Linked DNA regions of Homo sapiens: region 2 is linked to region 1. Evidence: fine-mapped expression QTL. A gene starts in region 1. The other region holds a variant in brackets. All regions are shown on one strand. Distances are between the middles of the regions.

The links.
Region 2: its variant is fine-mapped to the expression of TGFBR2 in whole blood (TOPMed, PIP above 0.99).

Annotation. Positions count from the first base shown.
Region 1 is chr3:30,600,247-30,611,145 of GRCh38, forward strand. It overlaps TGFBR2 (transforming growth factor beta receptor 2), which reads left to right and starts at 6,355. Exons shown (of 7, transcript NM_003242.6): 1 at 6,355-6,731. The coding sequence starts at 6,638. LOC105377015 (translation initiation factor IF-2-like) reads right to left here and starts at 6,678. Exons shown (of 2, transcript XM_047449400.1): 1 at 5,900-6,678; 2 at 4,153-5,312. The coding sequence starts at 6,678. The coding sequence ends at 6,238. RefSeq lists a silencer at 6,429-6,528.
Region 2 is chr3:30,625,564-30,636,462 of GRCh38, forward strand. All of the region lies in intron 1 of TGFBR2 (transforming growth factor beta receptor 2), which reads left to right. It also overlaps the pseudogene KLHL25P1. Among named protein-coding and RNA genes, the nearest start is that of TGFBR2, 24 kb to the left of the region's middle. The variant G/A (reference allele first, on the strand shown) is at 5,446.

The DNA of each region.
Region 1 (10,899 bases):
TCCATGAGGCATGATGGACTCTGGGTATTCAAACTTCTTACGTGGTAACTGATTCTTTTTTTTTTTTTTTTTTTTTTTGACGGAATCTCACTCTTGTCCAGGCTGGAGTTCAGTGGTACAATCTTGGCTCACTGCAACCTCTGCCTCCTGGGTTCAAATGATTCTCCTGCCTCAGCCTCCTGAGTAGCTGGGACTACAGATGTGTGCTACCATGCCCAGCTAATTTTTTGTATTTTTTAGTACAGACGGGGTTTCACTGTGTTAGCCAGGATGGTCTTGATCTCCTGACCTTGTGATCAGCCTGCTTGGCCTCCCAAAGTGTTGGGATTACAGGCGTGAGCCACTGCACCCAGCCCTGATTCTATTCTTTTTTTTTTTTTTTTTTTTTTTAGAGACAGGTTCTCACTATGTTGCTGAGACTGGACTCAAATTTCTGGGCTCAAGCAATCTTCCTGCTTAATAGCTCCCTAATAGCTGGGACTATAGGTGCACTCCACTGCATCTGGCAAAACTGGTTTCTGAGAGAGAGGAAGTCTCTTTTTGAGGCCAGTCCCAGAATTGGCACTAATGGTCAATGTCACTCCCACTACATTCTGGTGAAAGGAAGTTACAAAGCTAGTGCAGATTCAAGGAGAGGGAAAATAGACTCCATCCCACCTATTATTATGCAGAATAATGTGTGAGTACAGTGAAAAAAGGAGGCGATGGTGGCCATCTTTACAGACTATCCACCATACTCAAATAATGTCTACATTGAGGTAGTTGCTGATAATGATTCAGTGGTTCTACTCTGATACTTTTGGCCTTCCTCTCATTGTTGAAAGGTGATTGGAGTATTTCCAACTGTTTTATCCTCTTCCAATTATGTTCAAAGCTAGGAAACAGGTGAGTCCTTTTCCTTAGGCACTTCTTTCTTATCAGGTAGAAAAAAAATTTCCCACAAGCCCCCATCAGATTTCTTCTTGCAGCGCTTTGACCGGACCTGGATTACATACCCACCCTTAGACAAGGATGGGCCTTTTCCTTAAGAGGAGCTGCATCCAAATCCTAAACAAAATTAGTGAACTAATGGCAAGATGGGAGAGAGAGTGGATTTTAAGTAAACAAGGAATGGAGGAATGGTGTTGGTCATTTTCTTTTTAAATTTTTTTTTCTTTTTTTTTTTTGAGACAGAGTCTTGCTCTGTCGCCCAGGCTAGAGTGCAATGGCGTGATCTTGGCTCACTGCAAGCTCCACCTCCCGTGTTCAAGCGATTCTCCTGCGTTAGCCTCCCAAGTAGCTGGGATTACAGGTGTGTGCCACCACGCTCAGCTAATTTTCGTATTTTTAGTAGAGACAGGGTTTCACAATGTTGGTCAGGCTGGTCTCGAAATCCTGACCTCATGATCTGCCTGCCTCGGCCTCCCAAAGTGCTGGAATTACAGGCATAAGCCAGCATGCCCGGCCCATATTCTTTAACTGTATGTACAATTTAATTTGTAGATGATCCTAAAAGTCTAAATTGGAGTCCTACTGTCTTCCTCATCTTCAGCCCCCATAACAAACCTCATGATAGTTTTTGTCTATAAGAACCCCTTTGTAGTTTTACCACCTGCAAATTATTTAACCTTGCTTTTCCGTGATTCCTCACCCTTCACATCCCTTATATCTCTTAGCTATTGCCTCAAAAATTCTGGATAACAAACCAACCCAAATTTTTCCTTAAACGGCATTTACTTATTCTTACTCAGACTCATATGGATTGGCTAGAGGTAGGCTTGAGATTGGCTGATGGAGGTCTGGCTTAGATTCAATCAGGAGGTTGGTCCACATCTGTTCCACATGTCTCTCCTCCTCCCTGCATTTGCTGGTCTTTAAGTGCCTTCAACTGAAAATAATCAGTATACCAAAGCAGCATATTTTGGAGTGGCATTTCCTGAAATCCTTCACTGGTCAGGTGGCGAAGATCAACCACCTGATCAATTTGTTCTAGAGTGTAGAACAAGTCTGGAACTAGACAGGACTAAGTTCAAATCTGGGCTCTGTCTTTTACTAGCTATGTGACCTTTGTCAAATACTTAATCTCTTTAATCCTCAAATTCTTCATTTGTAAAGGGAAGATTAGAATAGTACTGCAAGGACATGCTCCAAAATTTAACAAGGATTATCTTTGGATAATAGGGTTAAGAATCCTTTTAAAGTCTGCCTTTAAAAAAAAAATCTAAATTTCCTACCTATAATTAACACGTATTACCCTTGTAATTTTCAAAAAGTTATTTTTTTCAAAACATACTATTGATGCTTTCTGTAAACATGTGGCATAATTGCAGGTTCTATTAATATCTGTGAAGAACTGCAAACAAGAGAATGGATTAGGAAAACTGATATTCTTATTTTTCTCTCTATTGAAGACAAGAAACACACACTGAATACTGATTATCTGTAGAGCACGGAGTGTGGTTCTACATTGAAAAAGGAATATTTTGTGCTTTTAAGGGCTTTACAATCATTAGGGTAGAATTCTAAAAAGCAAATAAATAACAATAATGTACTCCATGTTAGAATGGGGCAAACATTTTTTTTTAAAAAAAGGCTAAATAAACGAAATGTTCCCTGGGTTATCCCTGGGAAAGGAGTGATCACAGTAGGTGAAGCATCACAAAATATTTCCTGGAGGAGGTAGCATCATGGATGACCCACAAAGGGTGGATGACCCTCACAAATTAACTACAGTCTCAGTGCTTATTGGTTTGCTTCACAATAAAAGGAAAATTGGTCAAGAGATAAGAGCTGAGAATGAGGCTGGTTAATTTATAAGGAGAGGAATCTCCCTGTTAACTGCTCTAGCTGACAGTAACCTCAACAGCTGCATGTCACAAAGCTCAGGGGAGTAGGAAGTTCTTCTCTCATCACAACTGAGAAACCCAACGTTTAAATAAACCACAATTTGATTCAGTTCAATTGTGTGTGTTTGTGTGTGCGTGCAGAGTTTAAAAAGCTGGTAAAATAGATTGTCAGCTTTTAAAATTTCTGTTCAAGTTGATATTTATTGTTTTTCAACTCATTAAGGGCTTAAACGTTACCTTCCTTGTTTTTTAAACCCTGAGTCGGGCTATTATTTTTTTGTTCCCATTTGCAAATGGCCCAGTTTTTTACATGTATATATTAACTGCTTATGTGAATACACAAAATATTATACTAAGCCAAATATACAACTATGTGTGAAAATGATGTCTTGATTAAGGGTATCAGACATCCCTTTCAACAAGAATTTCAAAAGGAAGGGCATCATGACAATTTTTTTTTCTTTTTCTTTTATTTATTTTTTGTTTTTGAGACAGGGTCTCATTCTGTCTTCTAGGCTGAAGTGCAGTGGCACAATCATGGCTCACTGCAGCGTTCGTCTCCTGGGCTCAAGTGATTCTCCCACCTCAGCCTCCTGAGTAGTTGGCACTATAGATACATGCCAACATGCCTGGCTTTTTTTTTTTTTTTTTTTTTTTTAGTAAAGATGAAATCTCACTATGTTGCTTAGGCTGGTCTCGAACTCCTGGGCTCAAGTAATCCTCCCATCTAGACCTCCCAAAGTGCTGGGATTACAGGTGTGGACCACTGCACTCAGCCTGATGAATTTTTAAAATTATCAAATTGCAATATGCATGAGTTTACACATCTATTATTTTTATTATGATGATTTTCAAAAGGCTAGCTTGCACTTGGCAATGCTGAATTCTGATTCTTCTCAATTTCACAGGAGACTGGAGATTAAATCAGAAATGTTAAGGGCAAACAAAATTAAAATCAACATTAATGATGTATCATGGCAAAGACCACCAGTTAAACATTCCACCATAGATTTAAATATCTAGCCTCCAACAATGTAAAACATCTTTGTGATAATTAAGGAAAACAAAGCTTTTGGAATCTATTGGACATTTATTTGCCACATTGTGTTTTCAGGAGAAAGAAAGTACATGTTTGCTATCTGGAGGAACTTGGGCAAATGTAGGAAAAAAAAAAGAAGAAGAAAGAAACCCACATACTTCTCCATTCTTAAGAAAAGGAAGTAGTGGTGACATCATTCTCGGCTAAAATGTAGTCTGTTTATATCTCAAATATTCGGTAACAATGTTTTCTCCAGAGTTATGAAGCAACTAGAACAATCAAATACAATTTTCTTCTAAATCTTTATTGCCTGATTCATTCATTCATCCAACAAATATTTATTAAACATCGATTATGTGTTTGATGCTTAGGGACACAATAGTAAGTGGAGGGAAAGATACATAATACCTGCCCTCAAGAAATTTGGAGTTGAGTGGAGGATAGAAATATAAATTAAAGAATGACACAAATAATTATAAAGTTACAGCTGTTAAAAGAAAAGCATATGGTGCCAAGAGAACGTGTAATACAAGATCTACTCATGGAGGTGAGGGAAAGCTTGCCCATCAAAGAAGTTATGATTCAATCCACGAAGACCAGGAGTTGGCTGGGTGAAGAAAAAAAGGTCAGAGGAAGGAAGTCCACACTGGGGAAGGCTCTAAGCATAAAGGGTAGGAGGATTACAGAGGCATATTCACGAAATTTGGAGAAGGCTTTCAGTAAGCAAGGAGAAGCCAAATGAAAGTTTACGGGAGAGTTGGAGGCTTGAAGACACGTTCAAGGATCTGGTTTTTATCTTCTCTTTATCTCAAGAGCAGTGGGAAGCCATTAAATGATTTTAATCAGAGGGTTGGTATAACTAGTTTTGTATTTTGAAAAGCTGAATTCAGCTCTCGTTTGAGAAACTGAGTGAAAGAGCCCAGAACGGCCGTGGCTGAGGGTGACTCGTGGGAGACTCCTACACAAGCCATGGCAGTGGCATGGGCTGGTGGCAGAAGAGGGAATAGGGAGAAGATTTGGAACTCAATCTTCCTCCATTGACAAAGTCACTCCAGCTTTGGCAAGGCAATTAATTGGTGGGAAAGAAGATGCCTAGCCCTCCTGATTTCACTGCACTTTCTGCATCTTCAACATGAGTACTGGGAAGTGGCAAAACATCCAGAGGCAGCTTGGGTGCTAGGTGGAGCATGAGTTAAAATTCCAGGATGAAGCAAATGAACACTTAGAATGACAGGAAAGATTTGGGAGTTGGGTTTGGGGGAGGGCTATTTACCTTTATTCCCTGGAGACCCTGGCACAAACCCTTGCCTCTGCAATCTTCCTCTCAGGTAAAGGAATTCATTAAATGAATTGCTAGAAGATCTACTGACCAGAGGGCTGTACAGAATCATATCTTTGAGAGTGGGAAGTAGGTTGATCACATAGTTTATTATCCAATCAGGACATATCTGAAAGAGAAAGGGGGTTCTATTAATATTTAAACTACAAAACATGTACACCAGGAATGTCTTGGGCAAATCTGGTTGCCCTAGCAAGAAAGGAAATTTGAAAGTTTATACTGTTCTGCTCCCATGTTACCCCGTTTGCACATGAGAGGGTAAGTATTCTCTTTCTTCACCTGCATTAAGGGAATAAAAGCACAAGCATTCAGGTGACTCCCAACCCACTTTTAATTTTACAGTTTCTGCTATACTCTATACATTCTGAAAATTACATTTCCCACCACTATCACTTCGTGATAGGTGATCATTTACAATTACTCACTGACTCAGTCCCGGGAAGAGGCGGTGCAAAATGGGACGCTCTATCCAGGTGCTCATTAGAAATGCAGAATCTCTGCCTGCCTCCTAGACCTACTGAATTAGAATCTGCATTTTTAAATAAGATTTCCAGGTGATCAATATGTACATTAAAACTTGAGAAAAACCTCTAGACTTCGACCTAAAGAAAAACATTTTACAACTTGACAGTGTATGCACATACATACATGCATATAGACACAACTGAAGCACAAATTTAATGAAGTAGAATTTACCGTTACTATTTTATTTGGGAAAGAAATGTGCTCGCGACTCAATAGATTGGAGTATTCACTCCTGGATCTCAACTTGCAATTTGAAAACGCATCTCTAAAGCACCTAGGAGCAATCTGAAGAAAGCTGAGGGGAGGCGGCAGATGTTCTGATCTACTAGGGAAAACGTGGACGTTTTCTGTTGTTACTTTGTGAACTGTGTGCACTTAGTCATTCTTGAGTAAATACTTGGAGCGAGGAACTCCTGAGTGGTGTGGGAGGGCGGTGAGGGGCAGCTGAAAGTCGGCCAAAGCTCTCGGAGGGGCTGGTCTAGGAAACATGATTGGCAGCTACGAGAGAGCTAGGGGCTGGACGTCGAGGAGAGGGAGAAGGCTCTCGGGCGGAGAGAGGTCCTGCCCAGCTGTTGGCGAGGAGTTTCCTGTTTCCCCCGCAGCGCTGAGTTGAAGTTGAGTGAGTCACTCGCGCGCACGGAGCGACGACACCCCCGCGCGTGCACCCGCTCGGGACAGGAGCCGGACTCCTGTGCAGCTTCCCTCGGCCGCCGGGGGCCTCCCCGCGCCTCGCCGGCCTCCAGGCCCCCTCCTGGCTGGCGAGCGGGCGCCACATCTGGCCCGCACATCTGCGCTGCCGGCCCGGCGCGGGGTCCGGAGAGGGCGCGGCGCGGAGGCGCAGCCAGGGGTCCGGGAAGGCGCCGTCCGCTGCGCTGGGGGCTCGGTCTATGACGAGCAGCGGGGTCTGCCATGGGTCGGGGGCTGCTCAGGGGCCTGTGGCCGCTGCACATCGTCCTGTGGACGCGTATCGCCAGCACGATCCCACCGCACGTTCAGAAGTCGGGTGAGTGGTCCCCAGCCCGGGCTCGGCGGGGCGCCGGGGGTCTTCCTGGGGTCCCCGCCTCTCCGCTGCGCTTGACAGTCGGGCCCGGCAACCCGGCCCCCGGGCGGAAACGAGGAAAGTTTCCCCCGCGACACTCACGCAGCCCGACTCCCGTAGCTGCAGGGATTGTGAGTTTTTCTTGAAAAAGAGAAGGAAAGTTCAGTTGCAAGGGGCGCGGGGCACGTTTGGTCCCCTTTGTGCGAGCAGGAAAGGCGTTGTGTTGGCCGCGTTCGAGGCGAGCCCCCACCCCCGGAAAGGGAAGTTTGAGAAGTTGGTTATCTGAAGGCGGCCGGGGAGCAGCGGCCCGGAGCGGCAGCCTGAGCTGCCAAAGCAGCCAGCGCACCTGGGCCACTCCGCCCATGGCGATGCCGCGTGCCCACCCAGCTCTTTCTGAGCCACCCGTTCAAAAGGCCAGCTCCTCAGTCCTTAGCTCCTGGAGACGGCCACGCTTTCCCTCAGGCCGGCTTCTTGGCCCGGAGTTTTTGGAAACAAGTTTCAAGAAAATAATCGATTTCCAAAAGAAAGTTAGCTGGCTCCACTGACGCCTTGGCATGGATGGATAGGGAGTGGAGATGCTCAGGTGAAACCGAGAATCCCTCACTGAATGCCTACTGGGTGCTAGAGGCTGTAGATTTTGCCTGGAACAAGATAGTCCTGTCTTCAGGGAGTTGATGGTTCTATGCAATTATCGTTTGTTGGAAACCGAAGGGTTAAAATCCTAACTAGGCTACCCACCTGATCGCTGTCTCTGAAGGTTTTTAAGGAAAAAATAAAAATAAAAAAATATATATATATATTATATATATATAAATATATATATAATTATATATATAAATATATATAATATTAATATATATATGCATGCAGGAATGGGGGTTCTTAACTATTTGTTATGGAAAGTGTAAAACCTCTGAGACTTCAAAAGTTAGATTTTTTTTTTTTGGAGACGGAGTCTCGCTCTGTCACCAGGCTGGAGTGCAGTGGCGCAATCTCGGCTCACTGCAACTTTGCCTCTGGGTTCAAGCGATTCTCCTGCCTTAGCCTCCCGAGTAGCTGGGATTACAGGCGCGTGCCACCACGCCCAGCTAATTTTTGTATTTTTAGTAGAGACGGGGTTTCACCATATTGGCCAGGGTGGTCTCGATCTCTTGACCTCGTGATCCGCCCACCTTGGCCTCCCAAAGTGCTGGGATTACAGGCGTGAGCCACCGCGCCCGGCCAAAAGTTAGACTTTTTGCAGCTATGATCCAAATAACAGTATCTGCAGCTGTGGTCTGGGTAACCGAGTATTTGGGCAAGTCATAGAGCTTTTTCTGGGCCTTAGTTTCCTCATCTGTAAAATGGCCAGCTTGAATCTGGGTAATTTTACATCATCTTCATGTTTAACATCTTACGTATCGTGCCCCTCCCCTCCTTTCCCCTGGCTCTTCTGGTGACTTGGAGATGACCCATGTAGACTTTGGATGAAATGTAGAGGAGTTGACAGTCCACATCACCCGGAGGCACTCATTTTATTTATCCAGGGACATGGGCAGATTTACCTTTAGGTTTGTCTAGAAAAAATGCGCATCACGGTCAGTTGTAAATTTTAGAGTGTTTGAAGTGGATTGGGAACTTTTTAAAAATTATGGCATACATTGAAGGTGGCATGGAGATGGAAGCTTTTAATCAAATTAGGAAGAGGCACTATTGCAAGCAAAAAGTCTTGACACACATTTGAGTCCTATGGTTTTAATAAAATCTTAGTGTTTCGTTCTTGGCGTTTTTCCTGCATTGCAGTACCAGAATGTTCAATTGTCTCTCATTTTCCTCCAGACTTTTAAAACCTAAGTGACATTTTGCTAATAAATATTTAAAATGGCACCCTTAATTTTCTGTGGATGTTAAAAATCATTACAACTTTTGTTCCAGATTATAAAAGAAGGAAATTAGCAGGCCCTGATGTTGTTAGTTAGGTTCTGTTTACAAGGATAAGGTTTATGATTTGCAAATTCCAGACCCAATAGTTCACGAGTCACTTTCATTTCATCAATATACACACTTTTAAACAATTAGCTTAAAAACGTGGTGGCTTTTTATTTGGGTATTTAGACAGTTTTACAAGGCCCACAGATTTCATATTTTTATAGAACTGAAGTTTCAAAATGGTTGAATTAATGAATCATTTTGAATTTGTATTCATTTGATTCAAATTAAATTTTCAAAGTTGGCCAATGGTTGAAGACAGATATATTGAAGACGAGAAACCTAATTCTACTTACATTTTAATTTTTCATGTAAGTAAATAGTTTCAGAATTTCTCTAACGTAATTGGTAAACTGAAAACATTTTTTCAAAATATCTTAATGCAAGATAATATATCAGGTAATGAGATTGTTTAATAAACAACAAGCTCCTTTTACGTCACCTAAAAAGGCCCAAAAATCTGTCTTCTGTTTAGTAGCTTCTGTACTTCTGTTTAGTAGTATGCAAAGGATTTAAATAAAAGAACAAATTTCACTAAGAAATAGAAAGTTTTTTTTTCTTCGTTTTTGACTTAATAGATTCACTCTTCCTAAATGATCAAAATTAAGAAATGACTCTTTTGGGGAAAACTGTAAAGTGCACAATAACTCTTCAGGTCTGAAAAATATGACTTTTCAGGTTCCTGGAAGTAGATAGATTCTTATTGAGGACAAAGAATTTGTAAAAGTGTCATAGTGATCAGGTTCTTCACATCACTTTAATAACCTGCTTATTTTGTCAGGGTAAGAGACTAGACATCATTAGGCCCCAAATCTGATCTTCAGTCTACTCGTGCTTTTTTTCCGCCTCATAAAAACACATTTCCACCTTTAGGCCACTCAACATCTTATTTTTAATGAGTTATGATTTATACAAAATACTAATCACATTTTGAACTCATTGCCTTCTTTTCAATGTAGCATTCCCTAATGATGACTGTTGTCTATGTAGTCAACATAACTACTACATGTTTTCTACTCAGTTATGAACATGACTTTTTAATTTTTTCAGTAAGGTTAGTTTTTAACTCTGGATCAATAAGGCACCTCTGATATCATTGCAAAAACTGGGCATTTTTTCTTCTACCTTTTCAACCATATTTATTGAGTATCTCTTGCCAGGCAGGATGCTCAGACCTGGGATACCATCTCAGATGAATAAGACAGACCTGGTCTTTGCCATTGAATTTAACAGCTGGGAGCATGTTATAAGTAAAGAAAAGGATACGTGTTTTAACTGTTTATATTTGAAAGCATTATGGAATACTGGTGTTTTATTTTCTACACCTCATTTTCAAAAGCCTCATTTTTTTTTGTTGTTGTATGCACTAGGAGGATGTGCATGTTGAATGTTTCCTTCTAGGTCCCATTGAATGTATTTTTGAATCAATTTGTTGTCTCTTTCCTATCCCTGCCTTGTCACGGAGCCCCAGTTGGGCAGCCTTTAATTGCATTCTCCATTCCATAGCCAGCATGATGGACCCAATGCGTTCATTTAGTGCTCTCTTTGAGGATAGGCTGGTGGTAGAAGAGTGTAGGGTATAAACTTTGGAATCAGGCCGTCCTGGGTTCCAGACCCACTTGCCATGTACTGGCTGTGTAGCCTGTTGTAGTTGCTTTACCTACTAGTCATCCCTGGTCTCATTTGTAAAATGAGGATTATGGAGTTATGGTGAGGATTAAATAAAATATTGTTTTAAAGTATTTAACATGGTGCCTGCAACATAGTAAATGCTCAATAAATATCAGCTTCTGTTATTACTATTAACTCCTTAATTGGGCTTACCAGGGGCCTCTGACCTGGTTCCCATTTGACTCTGCTGCTTCACATCCCACCACAGCCCACATTTTCCCAGTCTATTTGTGTCACTACACATACACACAATGTGAGCAATTTAGGCAGCTGTTCCTTTGTTCAGGATGTCTGGAACTCCTGCTACCTGGCTAATTTTCACTCATCTTTTAAGACGTAGTTCAAGTGTCATCTTCTTGAGGAAACCTGCTTTGAATGTCCCAGTTTGAGGTAAATGTCTCCTATGAGATACAGACCTCTCACTTAGCTGGTAACAATACCAAGCCAAAGTCATATCTTTACGTAACTCTCTTGCCCATTATACCTTTAATCC
Region 2 (10,899 bases), 25 kb after region 1:
AGGATTCCCACCCTTTAAAAAGATAGGAAATTGTAAAATCCACACTTAAAAATTAATCTAAAATTATTTTTCAGGAAGAATTTATACAATGGCAACTAAATGCCCTGCAGCCAATTATGTTTATGATTCCTGCCTCATCTCCAAATGGTACTAGAGTTTGAGTCATATGAGAAAATTAATTGGGTTGGGCTTGATTGTACATGTATATGTATATAATAATGTTCTGGTTATAATGCAGTTTGCAGTTTTTCTAGTTACAGCTCAAGGCAAAGATGAGAAGCAACACCTATGGGCCTGACTGCCTCTGTCCAGTACTACCATGCCCCATCTCTAACTACTACATTTTTTCCTATTGAATTCTCCAGTCCATGTAGCATAAGTCCCTTCCTGAACTCAGTTTATTTTTCTAACCCTGGCTGCACGTTAGGATCACCTGCGAACTTCTAAAAGAATTCCAAAGCCTGAGCCAAGCACCTAGAAGTTCTGACTCATTGCCCTGGGGTAGGACTTTGGCATCATTATTGTTTTAAAAGATCCCCAGATGATTCCGATGTGGAACCATGTTGAGAAACACTAATCTAGCCTAACCCAGTGAGGTTACAAATGAAGAATTTCACCAGAGAGGTCAAAGTACTTGATTTCCCACAGCAAAGAAATTCCATTTACTGGGTTGAAAACTCCCATCTGTTGACTTTAAATCCAGCATAACAAATATGAGCAAGGTTTTAGAAGGTTTTGGAAACTCATCTGCAGAACAGAGCAAATACAGGCCTATCTAAAAGCATACCTCACAGTAAAGATGGTTAAAAACCAAAACCGGAGGAGGCAGAGTACTCTTGGTGGGGCTGGTAGTGGGGGGAATGGATGATTTTCCAAAAGAGAAAACACTTGACCTGGGTCTGAAAGGCTGGGTATGATTTAAGGCAGGCACTATTGTTCACTTGTTAGCCCCAGGGCCATGCTACTCCACTTCCTTCAAGGAAACAGAGGGAAGCCGGCAAGTGGCTGCCTGGGGTGTGTGTCCACACACCATATAGAGGCAGTTCTTCAGCTCTGTCAGCCATGGCCAAAGCAGGCAGTATTTGAACCACCTTGGACCACTCCTGAGGGGCAGCATCAGACACCAGGCATCCTTTCAGACACCATTCTTGGAGTCTCTTCCCTCCATCACGTAAACCTCACAGCCAACAGTGAAGGCACTGAACTCCTTCCAGGGGCTGAGCAGGCTGCCTTGGGCATGCTCTTCTTGACCTTAAAATCCACCTGATAGATCTGGTAGGGAGGTAGAAATTTTGGTGGTAGGAAAGCCAGCAATTATCAGGTCAAAGGGTTTCTGATAAAAGGAGTTATTCAGCAGAAAGGTAATCAGATTATGGGAGCCTTAAGTGCCAGTTTGGGCTAAATTCTCTGAGTCACTGGCAGATTGTAAGTAGGGGAATGACGTAATAAAACCACTGCAAAGCCAGGAGTTTGTGATGGGAAGATAGGAAATCCCTTTCTTTTTTTCCCACATGGGAAATAAAAATCTAAAGATGTGTGGGGAAGCTCCTTAGAGTGCCAGGACTTTCAGTATCCCCCAATTTATCATTAGGTTCTGTCCAGACCTCGTTCCGCACACAGTAGCCTAGAGACACCTCTGGAATAAGGTGTGACAAAAAACAAGGAAATAAATTTATTAATTTTGGAAAATGCCTTCTTTTTCCTAGGCCTCCCTCATAGACATTTTCCTGACAAGTCCCCACTTCAGGTTTCAGAAAGAGATGCACCATCGTTTGGAATTCTGAAGAAACTCAAGTTTCAATTGAGCTGAGTCTCAGTGGCATGTATTTTATTACATCTAATGCCATTTTAATGTACTTGAAACTGGGGAGATGAGGGCAATTGGTACACATGTGTAAACCACTACAAAAAGTTCACCTGAGTGTAGAAGGTAGCCAGTAGCCTAAAAACCCTGTATTTTGGAGGCTGTTACTTCATAATCTCTATTATGAAATTGGGAAAAATTATGTAATTATCTCTCTAAGATGGTCTTAGATCCACTGTTCAATAGAACTTTCTGCAGAGATGAAAATATCTTATACCTGGGCTGTGTTAAGGTTTAAGGACAGCACTGGTATAAGATATTTTCACCTTTGCAGGAAGTTCTATTGAACAGTGGGTCTGAGACCATCTTAGATGATACATGTGGCTTGAAACGTAGCAGGTGCAAATAAGGAACTGAATTTCAAATATAGATATATTTTTATTTCAGTTAACTTGAATTTAAATAGCCACAGGTGGCTCTTGGGTATCATAATGAATAGGGCAGTTATGGAGCATCATTAAAGTCCCCATTCTTCTCAAGTCCCAAAGAGGTCCGTTCAGGTAATTTCTTAGCACCTATAATCACAGTGGGACAGATTAAATTACTTGTACTTTTCCATTCCTGTGCTTTGGAATTATAGGCTGTTTCTTTGTCCTGGAAACCAGATAGTCTAATGTTTGTGGAAATACTACTTAGTAGTGCACTGCAATTATAATACTTTATTGTAGGAGGATGCAGCCAGGCCTTTTTTTTTTTTTTTTAATCATCTGTGTTTTTAGTTTTAATCTTAAAAGGATTATAAAAATAGTACTGCCTTGTGGGAGAAAAATATGCTTAAAGTCTATGAGCATGGAGTGGTAGGGATTATAAACCGTTACAAACTTCTCCTGGAAATTCTGGGGAAAGGGAAGTTAAAGCGGCCAATAGAAATCTCCTAGGAGAAAACTTGCCCTGAAGGGATGCTTTTAATTGGGTTCAGTATTTATCAGAAGAACCCTGCAAAAGTGGTTTCCCTGAAGGCATTTGGATTTTCCCCTGTGAATAAATTTCACCCACCTTGGTCACCTCTGTGCTGTATTCTCCTAGAAACTCACCTTTATTTGGCATGCTGTGACTTAAATCCTCCAAAAAAAAAAAAAAGCCTTTGAAAAAGCCTGTGGGTTTTTTTTTTTTTTTTTTTTTTTTTCTCTAAAATGTTAATTTCCTTTCTTTAGGCTTGTGTGGGCTTTGACTGGAAACTTAATCTGTGTGCCTGGGCTCTGCATTAGGTTTCAGTCATTGAAATGGGGCTTAATAAGAATTACTTGATACCTTAGGAGTCAGACGAGCCTTACATTTATCTTGGGCTCAGGGATTTGCATTTTGAGAGGTTGTGCCAGCTGACATGAGCCTTTACAGGTTTCAGCTTGTTGCAAACCTAGTTGGGTCCATTTCTCTCACTTCTGAGACCTTTTGCTGCTGCCACTCATAGCTAACGTGTTTTCCATGGAACACTACTCCTTGTCCCTAATTGTCTTCTCTCCCTACCTCAGCAGTGACACTACAGACAGCCAGTCATTTAATACGAGACTCATTCCTTAAGAAGTTGGGATAGAACTTTAATTACACAAGGCATCCAAGCCAGCAGTCAGGGCCCTTTCCAATGCGATTACTTTTCAAGCTCTGCCCTGCTTCTCCTTCCATTTCCCTCTGGGCCTTCGTTTTCAGATCTCCTCAGAAGCCGAGGAACGCAGGTCCTTTTGAATTTCTTTAGATCAGTGTTGTCCTATAGGACTTTCTGCAATGATGAAAGTATCCTGTCTATTCCTGGCCACATGTGGCTATTAAGCACTTGAAAATGGCTGGTCTGACTTGGAACTGAATGTATGATTTCATTTAACTTTAGTTAATTTAAATTTATAAATCCATGTGTCCTCATGGCTACTGTGTAGCTCTATCTAGATTATGCCCTTGACTTTTGAACAATGTGTCTTGGGAGAGTTCTCTTGGCTCTGGCCCTCCACTTTCATGAACCAGCTCCTCCCAGTGGGGAAAGAAGAACTCTCTTTGACTTCAGAACTGACTTCCTTTTATTGCTAAGTTAGACAGGCTAGGCCTTGAGCTTAAAACTCTTCACCAACTGTTTATACCCTCCATACCTGGCCTCAACATGTCCTTTTTTCTCTGTGACTATATCCTTATTCTTTATCCAGCAACAGCAAATATGCATTAATTTTCTGCAGATAAGGTTTCCTTTGGAACTTAAGGAAGAGGTATGAAACTTGGCTTTGGAGGACTTAGGGATAGGAAAGCCATCACCAAGTGTTTATAGAGTACCAACCACCGTGTGCCAGCCAATGTTTGAGATTTGGGGAATACAGAGTGAATTAAAGTCCATGTGTACAAGCTAATAAACAAGATTCTATCAACATGTCAGCAGATAAGTACAGCGCGAGGGTCTGAGAACAATGGTAGATGCTTGTAATTTTAGAAGCGGTTGTCAAGAATGGCATCTTTGATAATGTGATATTTGAGCAGTAATTGGTATGAAATCGGGATGAAGAAGGCAGATCTCTGGGTTAAGCGCATTCTAGTTGGAGGGAACAGCAAGTACAGTGTCCTAAAAACAGACTGTGCTTGTCATTTCCTCCCCTCCTCCCCCATGGTTTCTCATTTTTGCTTCTCTTTCTAAGAGTTACATTTATAGGCATACATTTTTACACTGGACATCACAAGAAATTGAGCGAGTTCACAACTCCACTGGTGCTGGTAAAAAGATTATGCTAAGATGGATAAAAGACTATGAAACATAGTCAAAATGCACTTCTCAGTCACCTCTGGCCATACGATTTTACACATCTGGGTTCTCACCCCAGAATGAGATAGGTTTAATAGATAAGATTCAGTGTGGGGCAAATCTAAGGTGCCAAAGTTAGGTACATACTAGAACTTCCATAAAGAGTTGTCTTAAGAAATAGAAAGCATTATAATTTGACTTTGTAGCCAAAGGTCATTCAAAACATTTCAAAGTTTAGATCACTTATTCCAGTTTTATCTCTAGTACTAAATGTTATTTCAGCACACAAATGTGGTCATTCCCCATGGATGGAAGGAGCCAGCTGTGTTCCAGAACTATGTTGGAAGATTGCACCTTGAAGACTGTGTGCATGGTTCTCATTTTCCATCTTAAAATCACTGCTGGAATCTATCTTGACTTTTCCACAGCCCATTGACAACTGTCATTATGTAAATACTGTCCTTTTTTCTCACCAACTACTGTGGCTGATGTCTCCCCTCCAAAATTTATGTTGAAACTTAATCCCCATTGTGGTGGTATCAAGAGACGGAGATTTGGGGGAAGTGATTAAGTCATGAGTGGATTAGTCCCACATAAAAGGGCTGGAGGTAACCAGCCTGGATCCTTTTGCCCTTCCATTTTCTGCTATGTGATGACACAGTACTGGTCCTCTCTAGAGGACACAGCAACAAAGCACCATCTTGGAAGCAGGAAAGGGGGCTCTTACGAGACATCAGAACTGCCAGTGCCTTGATTTTGGACTTGTCAGCCTCTAGAACTGTGAAAAATTTCTGTCCTTTATAAATCACCCAGTCTCACATATTTTGTATGGCAGCCAAACAGACTAAGTTACCAACCTTAGTGG[G/A]ATTGCTAGGACTTGGAAAGGAGTAGCCTTTTTTTTTTTTTTTTTTTTTTAAATACAGAGTCTTGCTCTGTCGTAAGGCTGGAATGTAGTGGCACAGTCTTGGCCATCTGCAACCTCTGTCTCCTGGGTTCAAGTGATTCTCCTGCCTCAGCCTCCTGAGTAGCTGGGACTACAGGCACGCACCATCAAGCCCTAGCTAATTTTTGTATTTTTAGTAGAGACGGGGTTTCGCCATATTGGCCAGGATGGTCTTGATTTCTTGACCTCGTGATTCACCCACCTCGGCCTACCAGAGTGCTGGGATTACAGGCGTGAGCCACCGTGCCAGGCCGGGAGTAGATATTTTAATCACAGGAGGTAGCATCAGAAAAGTTGCAGCTACTCACCACAAGAGAGACCTTTATGATGTTTACTGCAAATTGCATCAAGGTCATGACAGCAATGAGTAATGCCCAGGAAAGGCGAAGATCAACCTTACACTTTTTCATCTAACTGCACTGTGAGAAAACAAGCAAAATTGCCCAGTTTAAGGGCAGATTCTCAGATTTTGTTTCAAATTTCCTGCCCTTTGTTGTCCTTTCTAGAAGCCTTAACAATACTTGCAACTTCTTTCTTTTTTTTTTTTTTTTTTTTTTACTTCCTCTGCTTGAAAAACATGAAGGGGGAAGTTTCAAAGTGTTTGGTGTTATCTTAGAAACCAAAGTGAATCTGAATGTGTCTTTCTGTCCTTTTTGTGTCATTTTTCAAAATGAAAGGGACCTTTAAGTTCATCATGTCCAACCCATTTGTTTGACTGGTTGGAGAACAGGCACAGAGAGTGGTTGGGTAATTGCCCTTGAACTCAAAGCCCCCTCATGGTCGATTCAGAGCCTTCTCCACTGCAACCTGCTGCCATTCCCAGCATGGTGAATTCTCCTCCAGTAGAAGTCATATAGCAATGTTTTATAATTAACTTTTACGTGAGCAAATGAGCTCCAGGAGAGAAGATTAAGGAATATTGCTTTCCATATATCTGGATGGCCCAGAACACTTTTTAACTAGGTACTTAAAAATCTACTACAATTGTTGTTGCCCATATTCTTCTGTAATTCTTTCATCAGCTGTGAATGAAAGTACAGCAGTTTTATTTCCTTGAAAAGTAAGCCAAACATGATTTTATTTCAATATTTTAGAATTCCACAATCTTAAGACACATCATTGCCTTCCCATCTCTGCATGTCAAACTTACTAATTTTATTAGCATGTTGCGAAATAACACACTAAGTGTCTCAAAGCCAAAGTAGATCAGCTCTCGCCTGATAAATGTGCAGGAGTAAGCAGAGGATTTGAAAATTGAACTGGATTCTCAAGTTACTGCCTGTTTGCCAGACCTATGCTGGTTATGAACAATATTTCAAAACCAGATTATTTGGTTCTAGATCCTAAACACTCTTGGCAACTTTATTGTAACGATGATTGATTCCATTGTATATTTGAAAGCATCAGGGCACAGTGGTAACAAAAAATTATTATATTTCAATTTGTCTATTCATTCAAATTTCCTGAAAGGTTTTTTAGAAGTCATCAAACTGCTACATTCTATTGATGAGTAGGAATAGATTTACCAAACTCATACTTATCTTGTCATTTGTTTCCTGCAATTTTCTTTGGTGTGAGAGAGCATTGCATGGAATGTTACCTTTCTAGCAAGTGAATGCTTGTGTGGCATTTTTTACTGTCTAGAGGATTTTCACAGGTACTTCAAGCATGTTTGCTCTTCATCATGATCCTACATGGGACGATTTCATAAATCAGGAAATGGAGGTTTCAAGAAGTTAAGTGGCCCACAGCTAATACATGTAAGAGCCTGAATTCACACTCAAGTTTTTACCTTAAAACTCTTGGGCTTCACCAAGCTGACCTTATTATATATGTCTCCTAAAATAAGTGAAGTAATTACAAAGAACCAAAGCTTTTGTCTAAGAAACTTATTGCTTCCCCACCCCTTGTATACTTTCTTCAACTCCTAGTAGTCACACCTGTGTCTTTGCCTTGTACTGGAATGTGTGTAAAGTTCTACTCTTAAACTTTTTGATGGAATATCTATTTCATTGTGGAGTATCAGGAAGGATGAGGGCTTGTGTGTCACCATTGGCTTTGTCTTTTATTTGCTTTCTCTCATTGATATGATATGATAAGTTATTTCATCTCTTTGACCCTTAATTTCTCCATCTATAAAATGTTAATGACAAAATTGCATGGTGGTTGTGATAAGTAAATGAAATAATCATCACAGTACTTAATACTGGACTAAGCATTTGGTCTGCATTCGATAAATCATGATCATGGTAATAATAATTATTAACATCACATAGATCTGATTTCTAAAGTAGATGTCCTCTGGCCTTGAACTGAAATGTGATTATACACATTAGAGAATTACATGCATGTTAAAAATATTCATATTAGAGAGTTAAATCATGACTTTTTGCATTCTAGTTAAACCCTAATATTAGAAGAGAGAATTGAATGTGCAGGTGAAATAATCATTAATTGTAAACATTCAGGTGGCCACAGGGGCCTGGCAGGGGAGTAGGTGACATGAAGGAGTGTCAGGGAGGAGGCAAATTTGAGGACACAGAGACTTTCTCAAGAGGAGCATCTCAGCTCACAGTCAGCTGACTGTTGTCTTGGGATGGTGTGGGCCCACTGTTTCCAAGTCTTTTTTATTTCTTTAAGTGGAATTAGAAAACCAGTTTTGCATGTGAAATCTCTGAATTTTAAAACTTGGTTTATATTTTAAAAAGAAAAGAGTTCAGGCCAAACAGAACACATCTGTGCTCTGTGTCCAGCTCTTGTACCCACTGTAGCAATTTCTGCTTTAGCTTCTCAGTCTGTGCCCAAGTTATTTGGTTGTTAGAAACCAAGCGCCTTGGACCTCGTTATATTACTTTTTAAAGGGATGCCTTTCCCAAATATGGTAGTACTCTGGCCCTTTTCCAGAGAAAATATGGAAATCATCTGTTTTGACCAATATTTTCACATGTTTAATAAAACTGTAATTGAAAAACCTTTCAGGTACCAGGCATGCACAAGAACCCCGCAGCATATTTTGAAAAACTGAAGCAAAAGCCTCCACGGAGAAATTTATCAGTGAAAATTCTGCTCTCACAGAACATTGATATTCGGACCAAATCCCATGCTTAGTTGAGGCAAATGGTTCATTTCAGGGGCTGATTTTTCAGATTCTCTAATAGTCACTATCTTTTAAAAATCTGTTCTTACCAGATTTTGTGTTAGTTTCTGCATTTTCCATTAAGCTGCCTCAGTACTTTGAGATAAAGAATTGTTTAAATCCTAAATGAATAACTTAATTAAAAAGCACATCTTCATTTAGACCATCCTTATTTCCAAAGCTCTTTTGATGAAAATCATTTCGTGCATTTTTAAAAATTCCCTAGAAGAACTTAAAGATCTTGAGGAAAGGACCATGTCTTATCCTGTCCCCCTTCCCTCAAGGGTTTAAATATGAGGGCTGTCAGAAAGCAGCACATTTTCGTTTAGGTTGACTAATTTTGCTGGTAAGTAACAAATTACTTTAGTTGAATTGGAATGTTGTAAAACTCCGTCAGTCGTGTATCATTATCTTGCCTCTATCAGTCTGTGCCATTTACCAATGTTTTGACCATCACCAAGAGAGTTATTTAATCATCTTTTATTTTCAATAATAAATTATTTCCTTGTTGCTACAGCACTCCAAGTCCTGTCAACTGAGGGAGAATTGTTTTCTCAGTTGCTGTCACTTTAGGTAAAGTACCAACTTTAAAGCACTTCTCAGCAGAGGCATAAAGTTATTATTTTGAGAGTTCATGAAATAGTGCTCCATTCTACTCTTTCACTTGATCTAATATACCATTTGCATTTATATGGCTTAACTTTTTTAACTGGCTTCCTGTTCTTCTCAGCCCCAAACCCTACATTCTGGTTTTTGACTCATCTCATAGTCCCTGCAGTCAGTCTTTGCCAGATAAAGGCACTGTTAAAGTGAGCTTTATCAATGAAAAACTTAAGAATTTCATGTATTGATGACAGTATTTACTATAAACTGCTTGCTTCTCCCCAGCTTTCAGAAATTTGTTTTATTCACTGGGTCCTATTAGAGCTGAAAGAGCATGATTGAGAAAGTTACAATTGTTTCAGCTTTTTGAATATGGCACAAGTGCTAGAATTCTGAAATACTGCCTTTGGCAACAATGTGTAGATATTTCCACCTGCAAGAGTCATTTTAAATGTTTAGATTTTGTCTCCTGTTATGTGGCCTGTATCTCAGAGAGGTCCCCTGCCACTAAAAACAAAAACAAACAAAAAACAGAAAAATAAATGAAAATTCAGCAAGCGTTGGGGGGACTCAAATTGTACTTCATTCTTCAATGATACAAGAAAGCAAGAAAACCAAGTATGCATTTTTAGGATTTATTTGGGGTCATTGGGGCTGGTAAGTGTTAAATAGGAAAGGATGCAATTGAAATTCCAGCTCAGTTATTTTATGTTTGTCACTGGAGAAAGCCAATTATTTTTCCGTTCAGCTACAGCTTGTTTCATTCCGTAGAAGACTAAAAAAACTTCCTTGTAAATTGCATTTAAAAAAATTTGAGTTTAAAGGTACAGCCAAGATTTCAATTTAAAGTACCTCATTGGATGAATTCATTTGAGACACAAGTAATCATTCCTTAATCCCTTAATTTGTTTGGTAAATACAAATTTATGTTTATGCAGTTTTCTTAAAGCAATCATAGCAAACTACTAAATTCATGAGCCAAAATGCTAGTGAAACTCAAACCTACAAAGCTAAATTCCCTCAGTTGAACAAGTCCAAATGAGGAAATCACACACATAAATGCATAAACACACACACTCACACACACACTTCCCGTATCAGCTCTGTCTCCATTTCTGACCTCATGTTTGCATTTAAAGGCAAGTAACTGATTCACATGAGGTTGCCGTTGTTAATGTTGCCTCTCAAACTAGAATATAAGCCATAGGAGGGTAGGGACCAACCTGGTGTTTGTTTTAGATGTCTTGTTGTGTGGAGAGTATCCCAGACATTTGATATCCTTAATTGTTGGCCAGATGGTAGGTAGTTTCAGTGTGAAAATATATATGTATGTGTGTGTGTGTGTGTGTGTGTGTGTGTGTGTGTGTGTGTGTGTATAGTACTGGGATTACAGGCGTGAGCCACCGCACCCGGCCCGTACTAGGTATTTTACTAGAATTATTTCCTGCTCTAAGAGATTTTAGAGTATTGATTATGTCATTCTTGACAGGTTTTAAAAACTATATTAGTATTACAAAAACATGTGCATGAAAAGGAAAATTGATGCTTTTGAGCTTATCTCTTTATTTTCTGCCCACATGGTGGTCTCCCTATTAGGTATTGTTTCTCCACTTCTGATCCTGGTGCCCAGAGGCTAT